Linked DNA regions of Homo sapiens: region 2 is linked to region 1. A link means that fine-mapping ties the variant in region 1 to the expression of a gene that starts in the linked region. Tissue or cell type: spinal cord. Region 1 holds a variant in brackets; the other region holds the start of a gene. All regions are shown on one strand. Distances are between the middles of the regions.

The links. PIP is the estimated chance that this variant, and not a neighbour inherited with it, causes the effect.
Region 2: it holds the start of GTPBP3, and the variant in region 1 is fine-mapped to the expression of GTPBP3 in spinal cord (GTEx, PIP above 0.99).

Annotation. Positions count from the first base shown.
Region 1 is chr19:16,841,535-16,844,289 of GRCh38, reverse strand. It overlaps SIN3B (SIN3 transcription regulator family member B), which reads right to left. Exons shown (of 19, transcript NM_001297595.2): 4 at 2,322-2,522. Among named protein-coding and RNA genes, the nearest start is that of SIN3B, 14 kb to the right of the region's middle. The variant G/A (reference allele first, on the strand shown) is at 1,684.
Region 2 is chr19:17,336,380-17,339,006 of GRCh38, reverse strand. It overlaps GTPBP3 (GTP binding protein 3, mitochondrial), which reads right to left and starts at 1,454. Exons shown (of 9, transcript NM_032620.4): 1 at 1,343-1,454; 2 at 752-999; 3 at 556-642; 4 at 266-468; 5 at 1-53. The coding sequence starts at 1,395. RefSeq lists enhancers at 470-1,141, 1,142-1,813, 1,814-2,485.

The DNA of each region.
Region 1 (2,755 bases):
TTGGCTCTAACAGTATCCCTGAAATATCTGAACCAACATTCTAAAACCAGGATAATTTACACAACAGTTCAAACTTACATTTGAAAAAACTAGACAACCTGAGGCTGGAGTCACCAGGGGCCTTGTTTAAAATGCAGATGCCATCCAGCTGGGTATGGTGGCCCACGCCTGTAATCCCAGTACTTTGGGGGGCTGAGGTGGGTGGATCACTTGAGGCCAGGAGTTCCAAGACCCACCTGGGCAACATGGTGAAACCCCGTCTCCTCTTAGCCCTTAGCTGGGCGTCGGAGTGAGCGCCTGTAGTCCCAGTCACTCAGGAGGCTGAGGTGGGAGGATTGCTTGAGCCCAGAGAAGTAGAGGCTGCAGTGAGCTGTGATGATGCCGCTGCACTCCAGCCTGGGCAACAGTGAGACCCAGTCTCAAAAAAATAAAAACAAAAAAAGAAACTGTGCCGATGCCGGGCGGGCCCTGATGAATGGGAATCCTGCATGGTGGCCAGGTGTCTGCATTCTCAACCAACTCTCAGCAGCCCGGTTTGGGTTGGGGGATACTGCGTTGTCCCTTCCCATGGCACTCTCTCTGAAGGAGTCTGTGGCAACCCCTCATTGTGACCTTGTCTAAATTCATCTCTAGTGTCTTTAACCTGCCCCTTCCTTTGCCACAGAACAGAGCCACTGCACAGACTGCTCTGATGCGCCTTCCTAAATGTGATGACCCCACAAAGCCTGGGAGGGGCCCACAGATTCTACGATCACAAGCACATCCCTCCACACAGACCAGATGCTCACAGCAGCCACTGGCAACCACTCATCCATGACAAACAAGCGTTCTTAGGGCTGTACCAGCCTCTCACAGATGCTAAGGCCCATGATGATGCCAGCACGGTGGACAACAAATGCTGTGGAGTTCCCAGAACACAAATTCTATCCATTTGATCTGAAACGCTTATGCTGAAAAGAATCCCGCTTCTTGACTCGACATGTCAAGGCTGCAGGGATTTCATTTTAAAAAATGGGTTCTGCTAATTAGCTGGGCGTGGTGGCCCATGCCTGTAGTCCCAGCTGCTCAGGAGGCTGAGGCAGGAGAATTGTTTGAAGCCGGGAGGCTGAGGTTGCAGTGAGCTGAGATTGAGCCACTGCACTCCAGCCTGGGTGACAGCGCAAGATTCTGTTTCAAAAAAAAGAAAAAAAATGGGTTCTGCTGCTAAAAAAAATTCCAAGCGTTAGAGACTCCACGTCTGGGTGAAGAGGACGTCTAAGCCCCACTCACGACACAGATGTCCCTCGCCACCAGCCCACCTGCATTGCCCAAGTCCCCTGCAGACGCCCTGATGCCGCTGTCTGCTCTGGTCTCTGGACCTTTGCACAGGCCATTCCTGGCACCAAGAATGTCCACCCTTCCTCCAGGCTAACCTGCCTACTGGTTCCGACTGATATGTCAAGATTCAACCTGACTGTCCCCTCCCTGGCCCCGGACGGGTTGGGAACCGGGCTGGGAATCATATTAACCCTGACTCACCTCTCCTGCCCACATCCTTTCTTTTCCACCCCAATCCACCTCTGAGTTTCTTCCCACCACTGCAATGAACAGCTAAGCAGGAGCAGCCATTTGTCTCTGTAGCCCCAGCTCCTGGTGCTGGGCCCAGTTGTAATCAGCAAAGTAAAGGATGGCCGTATTGCCTAA[G/A]CAATAACAAAGTCATCTGATAAAAAGACTGTCTTGGCCAGGTGTGGTGACACACACCTGTACTCCCAGCTACTTGGAGGGCTGAGGCAGGAGGATCGCTTGAGCCCAGGAGGTCAAGGCTGCAGTGAGCTATTATTACACCACTGCACTCCAGCCTAGGTGACAGAGCAAGACCCTGTCTCAAAAAAAAAAAAAAAAAAAGGTGGCTGGGCACGGTGGCTCACACCTGTAATCCCAGCACTTTGGGAGGCTGAGGTGGATGGGTCGTTTGAGTTCAGGAGTTCAAGACCAGCCTGAGCAACATGGCAAAACCCTGTCTCTACAAAAATTACAAAAATTAGCTAGGTGTGGTGATGTGCGCCCATGTTCTAGCCCCAAGTAGCCTCCGCTACTTGGGAGGCTGAAGTTGGAGGATGGCTTGAGCCCAGGAGGTGGAGGTTGCAATGAGCCGAGTCCGTGCCACTGCACTCCAGCCTGGGTAACAGAGCCAGACTCTAAGAAAAAACAAACAAAAAACCCCACAACTAATTAGAATTTTACAGGATTTTATGAATTCCGACAAGAAAATCTGAATATCTGCAGGGCCCCAAACTGGATGAAATCCAAAACCCACAAGGAATTGTAATCTGAGTTCTTACCTGGTACGTGTGCAGGATCTCCAGGAATGACCTGTAGATTTCTGGGTGGTCTAGGAAGCGGGTTTTAATCTTATTCACATAGCTGATGGCGTTGTTGAATTCCACGGAATCGGACTCCAGGGGCACCTGGGGTTTGTCCTCTTTATACGGCACCTGCTGCTTGAAGTCCTCTGCACCGTCCCCGTGGTTGTGCGAATTCTCCTGACAAGGCGACAATGAGTTACTGCCAGGCCCGACACTGGAAACAGATTGTGAAAAACACCAGGCCCAGCCACTGTCTGCACAGGAACAGAAAAAACTCAGCACGGAGCCAAGCTGTATTAGAGACAGGGAAAGGTTACTTCTGAGAGCCTGGAGGCAAGCAGGGCGGGGTGCACAGGTGAGTCTTCCCAGCTCACCTCCACCCGATCCTTACCAATCTACTCAAGGAACAC
Region 2 (2,627 bases), 490 kb before region 1:
TCCAGGTTGTCATCCTCGCCGAAATCGATATAGGCCTCCACGTGGGCCAGAGCCTGGCGGGGCAGGGAGAGCAGAGGTGGTGTGTGCACCCAGAAACCCACCTTCCCACACCCAATTTGTCCAGCCCGACTTCAGGGGCCAGAATGGCGGCTCATAGGCCGGAAGCTTTCACGCAGGGAATGAATGCGGGATTGAGAGGGGGTCTCATGCAGGGGTTGCACAGATGGGGTCTCTGAGGGAGAGAATGGACAAATGGGGGACTTGCTTTGGTGAGGGTCTCGGCCCAGCCACGGCAGAGGTGGCCCAGCTCTCCGTCCAGCTGCCTGAGGGCCTGCCGCCGCTGCGCCTCTGTTTCCGCGTGGATAAGGTCCGCCAGCCCCTCCACTTCGGTCAGGTTCAGCTTCCCATTGGCGAACGCCCGTCTGGTGAACTCGCCTGCCTCCGCCGGTCGAAGCCCTGGCACGCTGCCTGCAGGAAGGTCCCAGTCTGACACCCCCTGGTCCCCACCCAGGCCCATTGGGAGGACCAAGCATCTCACCCAACGCTGCAACTCACCCAAGGCCTGCAGGACGCCGCTCACCACTGCCGGGCCTCCATGCACGTGGAACTCCACGCAGTCCTCACCGGTGAAACTCTGGGGACCTAATGTGACAGACAGGTGACAGGAGGACAGCACAGCCAGTGCAAACCCTTGGAAGGGGGAAACTGAGTCATGGGACCTACAGGAGGCTCGGAACCTGGGGACCCTCACCTGGGAACCAGAGCACCAGTGCGCGGTCCAGAGGCTCCCCGGAGCGGGGATCGCTGAGCAGGCGCAGGCTGGCGTGGCGAGCAAGGGGCAGGTCTCGGGGTGCTGTGAGAATTCGGAGGGCGTGGCCGCTGGCGGGGCCGCTGGTCCGGATCACTGCGATGCCGCAGCGGCCTTGGCCAGAGCTTAGCGCGAAGATGGTGGCGCCGGAGCCGGGGGCTGGTGCGCCGCTGCTCCGGCGCGTGCACAATCTGGAACCGGAGGGGAGGCGAATCAGCGCACCTGGGAGGCTCAGCCTCAGTGTCAAGTAGACCGAGGGCTCGATGATCGCGAGATGCTCCAGGTGGGGGGGTTCTGCGGCTGGGGGATGCACAAATTGGATGTTCTGAAGGCCGAAGGGTGACCGGATTAGGGACTGTGAGGCCAGAAGGAGACCCAGATATGGGCTCTGCCGCAAGGGTCATGAACGATTGAGGCACGGAAGAACGCGAATGATTGCTCTGCCGCAGGGAATTGGGCCCCTAAAACCCAGGGAGTGGGTCTGGGGTCCAAGCAGCACCCCAAGCTGTCGCACCCCTTCCCCTGTAGCCCCACCTGCGAGGCCCACGTGCCGCTTGGGCCGCCAGGGTCCAAAGCCCCCGCCACATGGATTTACAACCTGCGACCCGCCTGCCCGACCTGCCTGTGTGGCTTCAAGTCTGGGCAGGGGGCCCCGCCCACTCCGCGGCTTGACTAGTAAAGTGCTCAACTATTCTCGACCACCATTGGGTATCTTAGGATACGTCCTGCCCACCGTCTGAAGATACTCGCTTCCATTGGCTGGTGCAAGGGAGAGCGGGAGCGGGAGGCGGTATGGAGGTAGGTGTAGCGAAATGTTGTTCCCCGGGCAACATGAGACCAAATTTTTAGGGTCCTAGCGCAGCGAGGCTGACAATAGGAATAAGGAATGGAAGAAAGGACAGAGTTTGGCACAGGGCAGTGCAAATTACAGCGAGGGGAGGTTTTGAGTCCCGCATTTTCCATCTGCTCACTCCGCAGCCTTAGGCGTGGCAAGGACCTATGTGCGTTCAGTTTTCCCGTTCAAGAAAGGAGGGACTACACCTCTTTACGTTCAGGTTCAGACCGGAAACTCAGAGCATCTCGGTGACCGGGAGGGACGAGTACTGGAGAACCCACGCCCTGATCCAGGGAAAATCTTGCCCGAACTTCTGGAAAGAGTCCTACTTGCTTTTTCCGGAACTCTCCAGATTCTCTCCCCTCCCCAGCGTTCCCTTCTGCCGTTCCCTCGGCTTCGGATGCCCTTCCTCATTTGACAAACTCGTCTTCAAGGCCTAGCTCCAAGATCCCCTCCTCCAGGAAGTCTTCCTGGAACCCCCAGCACAGCCCTCTCTCCACTGTGGACTTCCTTGGCTCTCTGTCTCTCTGGTCCAGGTCTGCACCTGCAGAGCCAAGTGTCCGGTCAGTCTCTGGCTCCCCGAAAGCCAGAAAGGGGAGCCTCGGAGATTGCTTTCAGGTTAACCCAGGACAGCACTGAAACTCGGAATAAAGCGCTGATGGTGGAATTCCAGGCACTGGCTGGGCGGGGTCTCCGGGAGCGCCTTCGCATGGCGGATTCTCTGGTTCTGGATCAGAGCGGGCGGGCGGCGCACTTGCGTGTTAAGAAAAATCTGTCTGACAGAATAGAGTTCTAATACCCCCTTACCTCGCCCTGCTCAATATTTTTATTTACTTTATTATTTTATTTTATTTTATTTTTGAGACAGGGTCTCACTCTGTCGCCCAGGCTGGAGTGCAGTGGCGCGATCACGGCTCTTGCAACCTCCAACTTTTGGGCTCAAGGGATCCGCCCGCCTCAGCCTCCTGAGTAGCTGGAACCACA